Linked DNA regions of Homo sapiens: region 1 is linked to region 2. The links come from fine-mapping of genetic effects on plasma protein levels. A gene starts in region 2. The other region holds a variant in brackets. All regions are shown on one strand. Distances are from middle to middle.

Evidence for each region. PIP is the chance, under the fine-mapping model, that this variant and not a neighbour inherited with it causes the effect. Protein levels are from antibody-based Olink assays in UK Biobank. Linkage for the fine-mapping came from a reference panel and not from the study's own genotypes, which makes the PIPs less certain.
Region 1: its variant is fine-mapped to the plasma level of the GCHFR protein (UK Biobank, PIP 0.98).

The regions. Positions count from the first base shown.
Region 1 is chr15:41,139,587-41,148,536 of GRCh38, forward strand. No RefSeq gene overlaps it. Among named protein-coding and RNA genes, the nearest start is that of INO80, 28 kb to the left of the region's middle. The variant G/A (reference allele first, on the strand shown) is at 5,215.
Region 2 is chr15:40,759,371-40,768,320 of GRCh38, forward strand. GCHFR (GTP cyclohydrolase I feedback regulator) reads left to right here and starts at 4,698. Exons shown (of 3, transcript NM_005258.3): 1 at 4,698-4,846; 2 at 6,457-6,551; 3 at 7,856-8,338. The coding sequence starts at 4,811. The coding sequence ends at 7,979. It overlaps DNAJC17 (DnaJ heat shock protein family (Hsp40) member C17), which reads right to left. Exons shown (of 11, transcript NM_018163.3): 11 at 5,791-8,692. The coding sequence ends at 8,570. LOC124903474 (a long non-coding RNA gene) reads right to left here and starts at 1,898. Exons shown (of 2, transcript XR_007064599.1): 1 at 1,437-1,898; 2 at 1,104-1,356. It also overlaps the pseudogene SUMO2P15. RefSeq lists a silencer at 4,262-4,711 and enhancers at 4,378-5,243, 6,021-6,810.

The DNA.
Region 1 (8,950 bases), 380 kb after region 2:
TGAGGCAGGAGAAATGCTTGAACCTGGGAGTTGGAGGTTGCAGTGAGCCGAGATCGCGCCATTGCACTCCAGCCTGGGAAACGAGCAAAACTCCATCCCAAAAAAAAAAAAAAAAAAAGAAAGAAAGTGACCTTTGGTTGTCCTCACTGCTCATTAAATACTAATTGTAACACATTAGCATACTAAAGAACACTCCCACCAGTACCATGACAGTTTACAAATGCCATGGAAACACCCAGAAATTACCCTATATGGTCTAAAAAGGGGAGGAATCCCCAGTTGTGATTTCTGGGAAATCTCCACCTGTTTTCCAGAAAACTCATGAATAATCCACACCTTGTTTAGCATATAATCCAGAAATAACTATAAGTATACTCAGTTGAGCAGCCTATACATTGCTCCGCCTATGGAGTAGCCACTCTTTATTTACTTTTTTTTTTCACTTTGTAATATTTTAATTTTTAACTTTTGTTGGCACATGGTAGGTGTATTATATATTTATAGGGTACATGAGATTTTTTATTTTCACATTTAAGGTATTACAAATTGGAAGGACACAGTGGCTCACGCCTGTAATCCCAACACTTTGGGAGGCCAAGGTGGGTGGATCACCTAAAGTCACGAGTTTGAGACCAGCTTGGCCCACATGGTGAAACCCTGTTTCTACTAAAAATACAAAAATAAATGGGGAATGGTGGCGGGCGCCTGTAATCCCAGCTACTAGGGATGCTGAGGCAGGAGAATTGCTTGAACCCAGGAGGCAGAGGTTGCAGTGAGCCAAGTTTGCACCATTGCACTCCAGCCTGGGCAACAAGAGCAAAACTCCATTTCAAAAAAAAAAAAAAGATTTTACAAATTGATTTTGTGCTAAGAAAGATGAGCTTTAATTCTCTTGCCCTAACGTTTTTTTCTCCTTTTTTAAAAAAAAAAATTTATTTCCATAGATTTTGGGGGAAAAGTTGGTTACATGAGTAAGTTCTTTAGTGGAGATTTGTGAGATTTTGGTGCACCCATCACCCGAGCAGTATATGCCGAACCCAATTTGTAGTCTTTTATCCCTCAGCCCGTCCCATACTTTTTTTTTTTTTTTTTTTTTTTTTTGAGATGGGATCTCTTGTGCAGTGACACAATCGTGGCTCATTGAAACCTCCACCTCCCAGGATCAAGCGATTCTCCTGCCTCAGCCTCCCAAGTAGCTGGGATTCCAAGCACGCACCACCACACTCAGCTAATTTTTGTATTTTTAGTAGAGATGGGGTTTTGCCAAGTTGGCCAGGTTGTTCTCGAACTCCTGACCTCAGGTGATCTGCTTGCCTCAGCCTCCCAAAATGCTGGGATTACAGGAGTGAACCACCACTCCCAGCCTCATACTTTCTAATAAAATTGCTTTTGCTTTTCTCTGTTGCCTTACCCCAAATTCTTTCTTGTGAGAGGTCCAAGAACTATCTCTTGGGGTCTGGACTGGGAACCGTTTCAGTAATAGAATGAGAATAGCTGAAACAATTTTGAAGATGCAGTATAAAGGGAGAAGAATCAGTCTATCTAATTTCAAAACTTACTAGATAGCTAAATGAATTAATGCTGTATAGTATTGGTGGAGAGATAGACACGCAGATCTTGAAACTGCCTTTCCAAATATTATAACAGTGAGAAAATGACCGGGGCTGGGCGTGGTGGCTCACACCAGTAATCCCAGCAGTTTTGGAGGCCGAGGTGGGTGGATCACCTGAGGTCAGGAGTTCGAGACCAGCCTGACAAATACGGTGAAACCCCTTCTCTACTAAAAATACAAAAATCAGCCAGCTGTGGTGGTGTGCGTCTGTAGTCCCAGCTATTGGGGAGGCTGAGACAGGAGAATTGCTTGAACCTGGGAGGCAGAGGTTGCAGTGAGCCAAGATCACGCCACTGCACGCCAGCCTGTGTGAGCCAGACTCTGTCTCAAAAAAAAAAAAGAAAGGAAGGAAGAAAGAAAATAATGACCCTGTAAGAGGTAAGAACTAACCAACCCCCATCTTGCCTCTAAAGTCCAAACTGGGGGTTCTCTCTCTTGGCTTTGGAGTGCCCCCTCCCTCTGTCTCTGTACAGGGGAGTTTCTTCCTTCTTTCTTCCCCCTTCATCTTGCCTATTAAATTCTCTGCTCCTTAAAAACACAAATAAATAAATAAATAAAGTCCAAAATGTGGCCAGGTGCAGTGCCTCCCCCGGGCAGATAATGAGGTCAGGAGATGGAGACCATCCTGGCCAACATGGTGAAACACCATCTCTACTAAAAATACAAAAATTAGCCAGGCATGGTGGCGGGCGCCTGTAATCCCAGCTGCTCGGAAGGCTGACGCAGGAGAATCCCTTGAACCTGGGAGGCGGAGGTTGCAGTGAGCCGAGATCGTGCCACTGCATTCCAGCCTGAGCAACAGAGGGAGACTCCATCTCAAAAACAAAGCAAAAAAACCCACCAGGTTAGGAGGATGAGATGAATTTTACTAAGGTGTACAGATAAGTGATTACCAGCCATTATTCTGGAGATCACAAAATTTACAAGTTCCCCAATTACTCTTGCAGATAACATCACTATTACAGAACCTAAGATTGGCCTTTTGAGATATTTCTTTTAGGCTTTTGCATTTCTGAGGACCCATAGCCCCACCCGGATCTGTGACTCTTAACTTAACTTCTCCTGTGACCCCACCCAGAAGCTGACTCACCACACAAGGACCGTTTTCCACACCCCTATGAATGCATCCACAACCAATCAGTAGTACCCATTCCCTTGCCTCCCAAACTATCCTTTAAAAACCCTAGCCTCGGCCAGGCACAGTGGCTCATGCCTGTAATCCCAGCACTTTGGGAGGCCGAGGTGGGTGGAAGGCTTGAGGCCTGGAGTTCCAGACCAGCCACGGCCAACATGGTGAAACCCCATCTCTACTAAAAATACACAAATTAGCCAGGCCGTGGTGGCACATGGCTGTAGTCCCATCTACTCAGGAGGCTGAGGATGGCTTGAACCCAGGAGGCAGAGGTTGCAGTGAGCCGGGATTGCGCAACTGCAATCCAGCCTGGGCAACAGAGCAAGATTCTGTCACAAAACAAAACAGAACACAACACAACAAAAACCCCTAGCCTCTGAATTTTCAGAGACTGATTTGATTAAGAATAAAGCTCTGGTCCCCCATTTAGCCAACTCTACATGTATTAAACACTTTACTCCAATTCCCCTGCCTTGATAAATATACCTATGCAAATATCCTGACTCTTAATCAGTTTTATTGACATTTAATTCACATAACAAAATCACCTTTTAGTGGTTTTTAGTAGATTCACAATTTTAGAACATTTCATCACTCCAAAAAGACCACCCATAAAACAAGAGCAAAATTCCATCTCAAAAAAAAAAAAAAAAAAGAAAGAAACATCTAGGCCAGGCATAGTGGCTCACACCTGTATTCCTAGCACATTGGGAGGCTAAGGTGGGCAGATCACCTGAGGTCAGGATGTTACCAGTAGAAGGTGTCCAGGTTCTTGGCATCTCAAACAAAGAATTGGACAAAACGCACAAACAAAGCAAGGAAAGAATGAAGGGATTTATTGAAAATGAAAGTAGCTAGGCAAGGTGACTTGAGCCTGTAATCCCAACACTTTAGGAGGCCAAGGCCGGGGAACACTTGAGGCCAGGAGTTCAAGACCAGTCTGGCCAACAGGCTGAAACCCTATCTCTGCTAAAAGTACAAAAATTAGCCAGACGTGGTGGGCGTGCCTGAATCCCAGCTACTCGGGAGGCTGATGCAGGAGAATGGCTTGAACCCAGGAGGTGGAGGTTGCAGTCAGTCGAGATCATGTCACTGCACTCCAGCCTGGATGACAAAGGAAGACTCTTTCTCAAAAAAAAAAAAAAAAAAAAAAAAGGAAAATGAAAATGCAATCTACAGTATGGGAGGGGGCCTGAGCATAGGGGTTCAAAGGCTCTGCTACAGAATTTTTGGGAGTTTAAATACCCCCTAGAGGATTCCATTGGTTACTTCGGGTACACCCTGTGTAAATGGAGAGGATGAAGTAAAGTTACAAAGTCATGTACAGCATAGGCCCTATGGAGAGGATATTTCCTGTTGTAGCTGAAGTGTGAATCGGCCTTATGTTCTCTGCCTCCAGACCCTATTTTCCTGCCTCATCTCCCCGCTGAGAGATGTGATCCCCATAAATCTTTATGGGAGGCAGAGGGATTAATGGTTTTTTGTTTGTTTGTTTCTTTGTTTTCCTCTAACTGCTTCATTCTGGCTTGGGGCATAGTCCTTACCTATTGGGATCACAGAACTTTTGCCCTGTTCTTTCTAGTGAAGGCAGGGTAACTTCTTTTTTTTTTGAGATGGAGTCTCGCTCTGTCGCCCAGGCTGGAGTGCAGTAGTGCAATCTCTGCTCACCACAACCTCTGCCTCCCGGGTTCAAGTGATTCTCCTGTCTCAGCCTCCCAAGTAGCTGGGATTACAGGCACGCGACCCCATGCCCAGCTAATTTTTCTATTGTTAGTAGAGATGGGGTTTCACTATGTTGGTCAGGCTGGTCTTGAACTCCTGACCTCGTGATCCACCTGCCTCAGCCTTCCAAAGTGCTGGGATTACAGGCATGAGCCACCGCTCCCGGTCCAGCAGGGTAACTTCTTTATGGCCAGGGGTGGTGTCTTCACCTGGAACTGGCTGGAACTTCTGTTGCATGATCATCTGAAACTCGATGGTCTCTAGGCAAGAGGAAATGAATTTGATTAAAAGATTTAATGGAAACTTCAAGGAGTGGATATCTATGCTGTCAGAAATGTTTGTTATAGAGATTTGCAGTAAAAAAAAAAAAAAAAAAAAAAAACACCTGGGCCAGTGCGGTGGCTCATGCCTGTAATCCTAGCACTTTTGGGAGGCTGCGGCGGGTGGATTGCCTGAGCTCTGGAGTTCGAGACCAGCCTGGGCAACACGGTGAAACCCCGTCTCTATTAAAATACAAAAAAATTAGCCAGGTGTGGTGGCATGCACCTGTAGTCCCAGCTACTTGGGAGGCTGAGGCAGGAGAATCGCTTGAACCCAGGAGGCGGAGGTTGCAGTGGGCGGGGAGCGCACCACTGCACTCCAGCCTGGGCGACAGAGTGAGACTCCGTCTCCAAAAAAAAAAAAAAAAAAAAAACACAAAAAACCTGATCTGTTCTAGAACCCCGGTGTTTCCTTAAAGTCTTAGCAG[G/A]AGGGATTCCATTTTAGTTTGGTTTGGTCTCTTGGTGCCTAGTGCATGCACTCAGTCCATAACAATGACCTGCCAGAATTTTGTTTACTATTAGGAGGGTAGTACCAAGAGTTCAGAGTATGATCCTTATCCAAGGTCCCCATAAACCAAACCTTCTAAAATCAAATAGATAAAAGAATGAACTAGATAAAGAGTTTACTCACTTGACTAGGCAATTTCTTCATCAGTCCCCTACCACTGAATCTCTATAATCTTCATTTGATGTATTTCTCCACAGGCCACAAGTGCCAGCAGCTGCACAGATACTTCTCTGTTTAGCCAATTATATCATAACTTTTATAAGAGAATTTAGTGTCTGTTGTGTAACTGTGGCCTTTACAGTAGAATTTGCTATAGAACTTAACATGAGGGAAACATTTCTTTTTTTTTTTTCCCCTAGATGGAGTCTTGCTCTGTCTTCCAGAGCTGGAGTGCAGTAGTGCAATCTCTGCTCACTGCAACCTCCACCTCCGAGGTTCAAGCAATTCTCCTACTTCAGCCTCCCAAGTAGCTGGGATTACAGGCACATGCCACCACGCCCGGCTAATTTTTGTATTTTTAGTAGAGATGGGGTTACATCATGTTGGACAGGCTGGTCTAGAACTCCTGACCTTGTGATCTGCCCACCTCAGCCTCCCAAAATGCTGGGATTACAGGCGTGAGCCACTGTGCCCAGCCAAGGGATCCATTTCTAATCATTGCTTCTTTTACATTAAACCATGGAAAAAGGACCTAACAAATGATGCCCTTTCTTTTAGAAGAGTGAAGGACTCCTGGCAATGTTCTCTTTAACCCATGATGTGGGTTAAGAGGAGTGAACGAGGGCTGGGTGCGGTGGCTCATACCTGTAATACCAGCACTTTGGGAGGCCAATGAGAGCAGATCACCTGAGGTCAGGAGTTTATGAGACCAGCCTGACCAACATGGAGAAACCCTGTCTCTACTAAAAATTAAAAACTAGCCAGGCTCGGCCAGGCATGGTGGCTCACGACTGTCATCCCAGCACTTTGGGAGGCCGAGGCAGGCGGATCACGAGGTCAGGAGATCGAGACCACCCTGGCTAACATGGTGAAATCCCGTCTCTACTAAAAATACACACACACACACATGCGCGCGCGCGCGCGCGCACACACACACACACACACACACACACACACACACACACACAAATAAGCCGGGCGTGGTAGCGGGCGCCTGTAGTCCCAGCTACTCGGGAGGCTGAGGCAGGAGAATGGCTTGAACCTGGGAGGCGGAGCTTGCAGTGAGCTGAGATAGTGCCACTGCACTCCAGCCTGGGTGACAGAGTGAGGCTCTGTCTCAAAAATAAATAAATGAATAAATACTAGCCAGGCTTGGTGGCGGGCGCCTGTAACCCCAGGTACTTGGGAGGCTTGAACCCAGGAGGCAGAGGTTACGGTGAGCCGAGATTGTGCCATTGCACTCCAGCCTGGGTGAGAAGAGGGAAACTCTGGCTGGGCATGGTGGCTCACAGCCTGTAATCCCAGCACTTTGGGAGGCTGAGGCGGGTGGATCACCTGAGGTCAGGAGTTCGAGACCAGCCTGACCAACATGGAGAAACCCCCCTCTCTACTAAAAATACAAAACAATTTAGCAGGGTGTGGTGGCGCATCCCTGTAACCCCAGCTACTCAGAAACTGAGTCAGGAGAGTCGCTTGAACTCTGGAGGCAGAGGTTGCAATGAGCCGAGATGGTGCCGTTGCACTTCAGCCTGGGCTATAAGAGCAAAACTCTGTCTCAAAAAAAAAAAGAGGAGTGAACCAATGTTTTGTTTTTGACTTATTATGAGGCAACGTATGAACGTATGTACCATTAAAGTTTCTTATCCACATTGGGCCTTCTTTTTTTTTTTTTTTTTTTTTTTTTTTGAGATAGAGTCTCACTCTGTTGCCCAGGCTGGAGTGCAGTGGTGCGATCTTGGCGTACTGCAACCTCCGCCTCCCGGGTTCAAGTGATTCTCCTGCCTCAGCCTCCTGAGTAGCTGGGATTACAGGCGTGGGCCACCATGCCTGGCTAATTTTTGTATTTTTAGTAGAGACGGGGTTTCTCCATGTTGGTCAGGCTGGTCTCGAACTCCTGACCTCATGATCCGCCCACCTCGGCCTCCCAAGGGCCTTCATTTTTTAATCTATTAATGTATAAGGTTATCCACGTATAAGGCTGGCTGCAAACTCCTTTACAAATAAAAGTATACCCCATTAGTGCCCATAACAGACCCCTTTTTCACTTCTATTGTTTATAGAGGCATAAGCAAGAAAAAAAATATTCAAAGATAAAACGTCATGATAGTAGAAGTCTTCACCTGTGAACTTGGGAAAAGCTGTTCACATCAAGGATGACATCCTCTTCTTGGGAGAATTTTCCCTGGTTAGTTTTACCTTAAGGGATCCAGTGGGTGCACAGCTCTAAGAGCACGGAGGACCCTTCTCAGCTGTGAGATTATGAACCCATTCAAGGTCCCGAAGTTTTCTTGTAGTGTGGAAAGGACAGTTATTCTCTGATGTTTCCAGAAGATTCAAACTATAAAAAACTTTCTTTACCTGGTGAAAATACACTGTACCGTAATAATCTACTGTTATAACATCAGCCCTCTTGCATGAGAAAGCTTTCATACAAGAAGAAAACATACATTGAAAATAAAAATCAGCTGGGCGCGAAGGCTCACCCCTTTAATCCTAACAGTTTGGGAGGCCGAGGCGGGTGGATCACTTGAGGTCAGGAGTTCGGGCCCAGCCTGGCCAACATGGTGAAACCCTGTCTCTACTAAATATACAAAAATTAGCCAGGCATTGTGGTGGGTGCCTGTAATCCCAGCTATTCCAGAGGCTGAGGCAGAAGAATCACTTGAACCCGGGAGGCGGAGTATCACTTGAACCCGGGAGGTGGAGTTTGCAGTGATCTGAGATCGCACCCCTGCACTCCAGCCTGGGTGACAGAGCAAGACTCTGTCTCAAAACAAACAAACAAAAACAATTTCAGTGTTAGCTGAACATGAAAGTATTTTCTTGATATTTAATTTTTTGTTGTTGTTGTTCTACTTGGGTTAGTAGCTTCATACAAGGAAATTTGGTTATTTCTGTAGTTTACAATAACTTAACATAATAACTATAATTGTGATTGGTACCATATACTTAGACATTAGAATTTTAGAAATCCCATAAAATTTTGGGATATATATTAGTATTATTCACACAAATACAACCTAAAGAAGATTGAACATCATTTTGGCAATTCCATGTACCTAAACAGGTCAAATAATCCTGTTTACCTCTTTTCTGGATGTTTTCAGGGGCCCTCTGATCCATCCAGAAAGCCAAGCATTAGGAAAGATAATTTTGAAACGGAAGTTTGATTTTGGAATTCCAGATTACCATAAATTATTTATTTTGCCAAAGTGATGACTCAGAAATTTTAAAGAAGCAAAAGCCTTTTATAACCTTTAACAACAAAACAAAATACATTGTATTCTATTGTTTTTACACACCTTGCATGAACAACCATTTCTAGTAGTCTTTTTTTCTTTTTTTTTGAGACAGAGTCTTGCTCTGTTGCCCAGACTGGAGTGCAGTGGTACCACCTGGGCTCACTGCAACCTCCGCCTCCCAGGTTCAAGTGATTCTCCCTCCTCAGCCTCCTGAGTAGCTGGGACTACACGTGCACACTACTGTGCCCAACCAAT
Region 2 (8,950 bases):
AAAAAAAAGAAAAAAAGTAATTTAGTCTTCTGTACTCCTGGTGTTGCTTATGTGCTTGTTTGGTTGGATCTGGTACTGTTACCGCAACATGACCTCAATTCTTTTTTTTTTTTGAAATGGAATCTCACTTTGTTGCCCAGTGTGATCTGGGCTCACTGCAACCTCCACCTCCAGGGTTCAAGTGATTCTTGTGCCTTAGCCTCCCAAACAGTTGGCACTACAGGCACACGCCACCATGCCCGGCTAATTTTTCTATTTTTATTTTATTTTTTTCAGACGGAGTCTTGCTCTGTCACCCAGGCTGGAGTGTAGTGGCTTGATCTTGGCTCACTGAAATCTCCACCTCCCAGGTTCAAGCGATTCTCCTGCCTCAGCCTCCCGAGTAGCTGGGACTACAGGCACCCGCCACCAGGCCCAACTAATTTTTTGTATTTTTTAATAGAGACAGGGTTTCGCTGGGCAGAGAGCAGCTGCCCAGGCTGGTCTGAACGCCTGACCTCAAGTGATCCACCCGCTTTGGCCTCCCAAAGTGCTGGGATTACAGGCATGCGTCACTGTGCACAGCCAAATTTTTGTATTTTTAGTAGAGACGGGTCTTCATCATGTTTGCCAGGGTGGTCTCTAACTCCCAGCCTCAGGTGATATGCATGTCTTGGACTCCCAAAGTGCTGGGACTACAGGCGGGGGCCACTGCGCTGGCCCTCAGTTCTTTCAGGAAGTCCCAAAACCTGTGAAATTAACCATCCTCCCAGCTGCGCTTGCTTACAGAAACAAAGGCCAGGTGCCAATAACCAGGAACCAGCCACAAGATGAACTGAACTCAGCAGTGCTGCCTTGACCTGAGTTACTGCTTCACTGCTATACTAAAATCTCCACTCAGTGCGGAGAAATGTACCTTGCTAAGCACAAACAGTGCCAGGTGCAAAAAGAATCTACACACTCCAGCTGCTCCTGGAAGAACCCATCCAGGAATCCCTACCCCAGTCTTCACCTATCTGCCCAAAAAACCCTTAAGATCCCCCTTTACCCAATGTCCAGGGAGCAGGTGCTTTGAGCAGAAGCTCCCCTTTTCCATTCTTGACCAATGAACGTTTCTGCTCTGCTTTACTGAACCTGGTTTCATTTTATTGGTAAGAACTGCACTGGACGGGTCAAGCGACCCTCCCTTGAGGGCGGTAACAGTACCTGCTTTGTGAAGCAGCAGCTGCAGAGATTCTGGTGCTTGCCATGGCCATGGAAGCTCAAGGAAGAAGTTAAGACTGAGAACAACGATCATATTTGTTTGAAGGTGGTGTGGCAGGATAGTTCTGTGGCGCAGTTTAAGAGGCATACACTGCCTAGTAAACTGATGAGAGCCTATTGTGAATAACAGGATTTGTCAATGAGGCAGATCAGATTCGGATTTGATGGGCAGTCAATCAATGAAACAGACATACCTGCACAGTTGGTAATGGAGGATGAATACACAATTGACGTTTTCCTGCAGGAGACAGGTGTCTACTAAAAAAGGAACCTACTACTTTACTCCAAACCTCTGTTCTTACAGACCAAGATTACATCCTCAATTAGAAAACTGCAATTTGGTTCCACTACATCCCGACCAATATAGTATAGTTTTATTTCATTTTCACCTTCCCCTTTCCTTTGCTGTACATACAGTAATGGGTATGTGTGCACCAGCGTATTGCATTTGTGTTTTTGTTTGTTTTTTTGTAAAATGGCCAATGGTGTGTTCTGATTGACATCAGGTGGAGATGGGACTGGGAAAAATACTGCTTCTGTGAAAATACCCCCTTTCTCCATTCTTGGCATGCTCATTCAGCTCTTATCTTTTTTTCATATATTTATTTTAGATGAAGTCTTGCTCTGTTGCCCAGGCTGGAGTGCAGTGGTGTAATCTTGGCCCACTGCAGCCTCCGCCTGCCAGGTTCAAGCGGGACTACAGGCATGTGCTACCACATCTGACTTTTTTTTTTTTTTGAGACAGAGTCTCACTCAGTCACCCAGGCTGAAGTGCAGTGGCATGATCTCAGCTCACTGCAACCTCTGCCTCCTTGGTTCAAGCGATTCTCCTGCCTCAGCCTCCCGAGTAGCTGGGACTACAGGTGTGTGCCACCACGCCCAGCTAATTTTTGTATTTTCAGTAGGACAGGGTTTCACCATGTTAGCCAAGCTGGTCTCGAACTCCTGAACTCAAGTGATCCACCCACCTCGGCCTCCCAAAGTGCTGGGATTACAGGCATGAGCCACCGTGCCCGGCTCAGCTCTTGTCTCTATATTCCAGTGAGTTATATTTTGCTCTGTTTTAACTAAAAAATGACAACATAAAAATCCTTCCATACTTTATTCAACTGAAGAATTTTAATGTTTTTCATTTATCATTGTAAAAACCAAGGACAATTGTATAACTTAAAAAAATCCTTCTAATCAGTGGATGATTTTTGTACATAGCTTTCACATGTAGGGTAATCTGTCTTTAAGTAGGGATAAATTACTTAAAAATAAACCAAATCATGGCTCACTGCAGCCTCAACCTTCTGGGCTCAAGCGATCCTCCCACCTTGGCCTCCCAAAGTGCTTAGATTACAGGCGTGAGCCACTGTGTCTACAAAGTCTTGGGGTTTAAATAAATTTGGTTAAAATGAAAAAAAGTAAAATTGACTTTAATTTGTATTTCCTGTATTTCTAATGATATACTAGGCATCATGTTATATGTTTATTGGTCATTTCTATTTCCTCTTTTGTGAAGGGCCTATTCAAGTCAGTTACCCCTGTTTTTTCCATTGTTCATCTTTTTCTCACTGAGTTGTAGGAGCTCCTGGGCATCAATCTTTTGTTAGTTTTTTTTTTTTTTTTTTTTTTTGAGACGAAGTATTGCTCTGCCCCAGGCTGGAGTGCAGTGGCCCAACCAATCTCGGCTCACTGCAAGCTCCGCCTCCCAGGTTCACGCCATTCTCCTGCCTCAGCCTCCCGAGTAGCTGGAACTACAGGCGGCCCCCACCACGCCCGGCTAATTTTTTGTACTTTTAGTAGAGACGGGGTTTCACTGTGTTAAGCCAGGATGGTCTCGATTTCCTGACCTCGTGATCCGCCCGCCTCGGCCTCCCAAAGTTCTGGGATTAGCAGCGTGAGCCACCGCGCCCGGCCCTTTCGTCAGTTTTAACACATCCTTTGTTAAGCATGAATGTGTTTTATCTCTCTGGCTAACTTGTTAGGTCAGTGGGTAAGAGGGCAGGGGTAGGAACTACAGAATAATAAATTAGACCAGTTAAGGAACGTTTAGGATTACAACTTCCTGCTTCCCTTATAGCTCTCTCCACGTCTGTCAAAGTGTTGGAACGGCAGCATCCCCTATAAAGGCCCCTCTTAAAAAGTGAAGATTATTACCCTCCCATGGGAGGGAAGGCTACCTACAGGCTGTTTTTGTTTTGCTTTATTTTCTAGAAAACCAATCACAGGCCGGATGCGGTGGCTCACGCCTGTAATCCCAGCTCTTTGGGAGGCCAAGGCGGGTGGATCACCTGAGGTCGGGAGTTCGCCACCAGCCTGACCAAAATGGAGAAACGCCGTCTCTACTAAAAATACAAAATTAGCCGGGCGTCGTGGCGCAGGCCTGTAATCCCAGCTACTCAGGAGGCTGAGGCAGGATAATCGCTTGAACCTGGGAGGCGGAGATTGCGGTGAGCGGAGATCGCGCCATTGCGCTCCGGCCTGGACAATAAGAGCGAAACTCCATGTCCAAAAAAAAAAAAAAAAAAGAAAAGAAAAAAGAAAACCAATCACAACAAGGCAGATAAAGAAGGATGAGTTGTCAGATTTTGATAACTGCGGATGAGGGGCGTGGACACACGGTTGGGAACTCGCAGCCGCTCATTGGTGGCTGGTGCGGGGGAAGTTGTTTCATTTGCCCCAGGTGTTGCCCAGTGACCTCCTGCGCGTGCGCCGCGTCTGTCCAGCTGCGCGGGAAGCTCAGGGGAGGGAAGGCCAGGTTCCATCCATTCAGTCACTCCAGACCTGGCACCCAGCCAAGCGCGCGGTTCCTTTACAGACTTTCCTGCGGGTCCACAGAAATGCAAGGATCCGCCTCTGTGCTGGAATTAGAGTCTGGGAGGGGGAATGCACAGTGCGCCCTGGGTGGTATTTTAGTTGTCGCCTTCAGGGCTAGCTCCGAGCCTCGTGCCCCGGCCTCCTCAGCGCTTAAGGAATCTCTGGAGCGCATGTCTTGGCGAGGGGAAGTGGGGCCCCGTTGAAGCTGTCGAGGCGTCTCTGAGAGGGGTGGGCTGGGGCCTGGAGAGGCCTCCGTGAGGACGCCGTTTGCTCTGGGCTCTGCCTGGCAGGGGACTTTGGAACCTGGCCTGAAGTGTTCAAGAAGCGGGCGCGGGGGCAACACGCGCGCGGGGACGCAGTAAGATCACAGGCTGCAAAGAAAACAGCACTAAGCGTCCTGGAGGACGCTGGAGCTTCAGGATAGTGTCCTTCCAGGTCGTGGGACCGCCCCCTCCTCCCCGCACTCCACCTTCCCGCAACTGGATCACTCGGCGGAAGCCTCAGGTGGGCCCCGGGGTCCAAGTCCGCCGCCGGGAGGGCGGGGGCGGGCCCCGAACCGCCGACTGCAGGGCGCGTCACGGCAGCCGCTCCTGATTGGCGGCCACGGCGGTCACGGGCAAGGTGCCCCGGGATTGACGCCGCCTGTGGCCAGAGCCGGAGTAACGGGACTCCCAGCTGCGCGTCGCAGTCCCGACGCGAGAAGGGCTGGAGTCGGCGTCCAGCCTAGAGCCCCCGGTGGGAGCCAGGCCGGGACGCGTGCACCATGCCCTACCTGCTCATCAGCACCCAGATCCGCATGGTGAGTACCGGCCGCCTGGCGACTTGGAGCCGGGACCAGGCCCTAGGGGGCTGCGACTGCACCTTCATGCCTCCCTCCTGGGCTGCACCCACCGGGGACTGGACCGGGAACCCGCCCAGACACGCCCCCTTGGCCGGGGAGAGGGAGTGGAGAAGCGGGCTCAGCTCGGCTTCCGGGACTCAGCGAGCTCTGGCCGGCCTGAAGCCTTTATTGCCGCGAAGGGGCCCGGGTACGTGCGTCCCGGCAACAGGGCGACCTCCGGGCGCTTCCGGCTCCTGTCCTACCTGTCGGCGGGAGAGACCCAGGGAGCCCTGGCCTCACGCGCAGCACCTAGTGCCCTGCACAGAGCCGCTCCGCAGGGGAAAAAAGGGCGAATAACCTGAGAGAAAGAGGTTTGGAAAAGATAAGGACCTGCCAAGGCGCTAAAACCCCGGTGCCAAGTCCTTGACCCATAAACAGCAACTAGCTGCACCCTTAGGCACTTCCAGGAAGGGCTATCCCTGAAGCTTTAGGGAAGGAAGAAAAGAAAGAACACCCTGCTTGGAAAAAAGGAAGGCGAGAAGGGGCTGTGCAGTTAGAGGTGGGAACACCATGAGTTAGAAGTCACGTTCCTTTCTCTGGGCGCAGTTTCCTTATCTGTAAAAAGGTTCTGATTGCCCCTCAGGAGTCCCCTTTTAGCTTCAGAAAGACATGACGGGCAGCAAGGTGCTCTCTGCCCTTGCTCACTGCCCAGTGCTGGGGTGAACCAGCAAAGGGTACACAACCCCCTTGGTGGGTTCACCACGCAACAGAGAGCTCTTGCAGAGCCCTGGGCAGCGGTTTGTGAAGCAGCCATCTGCTCAGCTGCCAAAATGTGGATTCCTGGGTCCCTTCCCAGACCTCCTAAAACTCTGTCTGGGGCTTGGGAACCCATACTTGGAAATGGCCCCCCAAAGTGATTCTTATTTCTTAAAAGATATGGCTTTATTGATATGTAATGTGCATACCATAAATTCTTTGATTTAAAGTGTACAATTCAGTGTTGTTGTTTCTTTAGTGTACTCAGAGTTGTGCAACCATCACCATAATCAGTTTTAGAACATTTCTAATACCCCAAAAGGAAACCCTGTACCCACTGGCAGACACTCTTGATTTCCCCCAAGTCCCTCAGCCCTAGATAACCACTAATTACCTTTCTGTGGTAATGTGATCTGAGTCTGGCTTCTTTCATTTACATGTTTATTTTGTTTTGTTTTTTTGAAATGGAGTCTCACTCTGTCACCCAGGCTGGAGTGCAGTGGTGCAATCATGGCTCACTGCAGCCTCAAACTCCTCCCACCTCAAGCGATCCTCCCACCTCAGCCTCAGTAGCTGGAACTATAGGCTCGTGATACTTTGCCTGGCTAAAGCTGAGCTTTAAGGCACTAGGGAGGGCGCCTACATTGCTCCTCCTGATCATTGATGGGCTCCACCCCTTCACAGCTTGTGCTCAGCCCCTAAGAATCCTTGCTACTCTCTGTAGCCTTTACCTGAACCTTACTCAGGGCTAGCAGGCAGGGGAGGAAGGACAGGCAAGACCTTCCACCTCCTCCTGGCAGCCAGCCAAGCAGCCACTGTGGCTTACCTTGCAGGAGGTGGGCCCCACTATGGTGGGCGATGAACAGTCGGATCCAGAGCTGATGCAGCATCTGGGGGCTTCAAAGAGAAGAGCCTTGGGAAACAACTTGTAAGTAGCAGCCTCCCTCAGTATCCTCTCCCTGCCAGCCCCTAGACCTGCCTCTGCTCCCTTTATACAACCTCCAAGCCCAGGGACAGGGCCCAGCATCAGAGCCCCCTGCCTGCATCCTGGGGCTCTGTTCTCCGGAGGAGTTGGTCCCATCTGTAGCCTCTCCAACATCCCCCCTCTCCCCCACGAGGCTTGCTCTGAAAGCTTTCCACATCCTTACTGGAACCGCAGAAACAGAGTCCGTTCCCTGGGTCTAGGACTCCACTAGCAGACTGTTCCTTGCCCTGCCCTCTCCTAAGCTGGACCCCATCAAGGACAGACAGGCACAGAGAGAAAGGTTTTTGTCGTGAGGATCTGCATGAGTCGCAAAGCTAAGCCCTAGAAGCAGGGAGCAGGGAGCCTGCGTCCTACCTCCAGGGTGGCTGCTGCCTGGGGACCTAGCCATTTCCCTTGGCATTCTTCCTAATGCCTCCATGTCTAAACTGTGACTACTGCTTCCATTCCTCCTCTCACCCCTGGAGGCAGGGAGAACCCAAGCTACACAGGCTCTCTGAAAAGAGTTGTCAGAGTGAGTGCCAGTTCAAATCGGGGAAAGAGGAGGGCTGATCCCAGCCCCTGGGTCAAGGCTCGGGGACAGAAGCCAGCCCCCTCCCTTTGCCATGAGGCACTTGCCTCTCCATGCCCAGCTTGGGGCTTGAGCCCTTTGTCTGCTTCATGGTCTTTCAGCATCAATTAAACCTGACAGAAGGACTACCAGCACTCTCCATGCTAGGGAGTGGCGCACAGAGCCAGGAGCTACTGGGGCTCAGCCTTGTTGCTACAGAACTGCAGGACAGCCAGGGCAGTGAGGGGCCTGGAGGCTTATTTTTTTTTGAAATGGAGTCTCTGTCGCCCAGGCTGGAGTGCGGTGGTGCAATCATGGCTCACTGCAGCCTCAGCCTCCTCCTACCTGGAAGCCTGGGTGGGGAGCAAGCCCAGGGAGGGCGGCAGCAGGGCTGTGGTCAGACTAACATGGTCTACCATCTGGGACGCTGGGGAACCTGATTAACCCCTCTGTTTTCTCATCTATCAATGGCCACAACAGTGGCACCTTCACTAGCTTGTTGGGAAGAATAAATGAGATAGCTCGTGAAGTACCTAGAAGGGGAGGAGGCAGGGGGCGTGCACTTACCCCAGCGCCCAGCAAGCAGCCAGCAAGTGTGAGTCACTACAAGAGTGGCCAGGCTGCCTGCTGCAGACACTAGCTTTGTACCAGGAGCTTGCTGTGTGCCCCTCCTCACCCCCCCCATCCTGTCTCTTTGCAGTTATGAATACTACGTCGATGACCCTCCCCGCATAGTCCTGGACAAGCTGGAACGCAGGGGCTTCCGTGTGCTGAGCATGACGGGGGTGGGCCAGACGCTGGTGTGGTGTCTGCACAAGGAGTGACCTTCTCATGCTGATTTGCAGACGGGGCACCCCTGTGGAGGGGCTGCTGTGGGCCCTGACCTCCAAGCTCCTGCCTCACCGTCTGCCTTGCTCCTCTCTTCCCAAATCATCACCGCCATGGGCCCAGCCCCAAAGGGCAGTGAATGGCCTTCTCTGAAACCCTGCGTCAAGCAGTGGGAGAGGGCAGTGCCCGGTGCCCTGGTGCTCCCAGCTGCCCTCCTGCTTCGGGCCTGGGCCGAGGGCCTTGTGTAGGCCATGTTCCTCGGGCAGCTGCCCCGGGCCGGAGCTGGGCACTCCAGCGGCCCTGGCGCGTGGCTCCTGCATAGCTAGCCCAAGCCAATAAAGGGCTGTGATGAGTGGCTGCGCCTGTGCTCTGCTTGTGCACGGACTCTGGGACTCTCACCCTGCGGAGCGTTTCCCTGGGGGTCTGCCCACTTCCTGGGAGGGGCGCCAGGCCTGGGTGGAGCGCTCTGCGGCAGAGCCCAGCACCTTATACCTATGTATGGGATAGAGGTAAAATCTTAAAAAAAAAAAAAATTTATTGGTGACGTTGAAGAAAAGGGCTGAGGGGTGGATGGCTGGAGCTGGGGCTACGTAGGCGGCCCCTCCTGGTCTTCCTGCTGCATCCGTGCGATCAGCTGTTGCCGCTCGGCCGCCTGGCGCATGCGCATCATGACGAGGCTCTCGTAGTCCCTCTCTGACAGCACTGAGCCCTGTCGGACAGGGCAGGGACAGGGAGGGGTCAGGGACAGCAGGGCACAGCCTCACAGACTCCGAGTACGGTGCCGAGGCAGTGCTGCGTTCTAAGAGTCTCGGAGGGAGGACGGCAGAGGAAGGGAAGGAACCCGGAGCATCCTTTTGGAATCCTGGCTCGCCTGTGTCCCCCAGAACACGCCACCTTTGGCCTCCAGGCCGGCTTCTACCCAGCCAGCTCCCCCTCCCTTTCCCCAGGCCGCGTCAGCTCCGGTCCA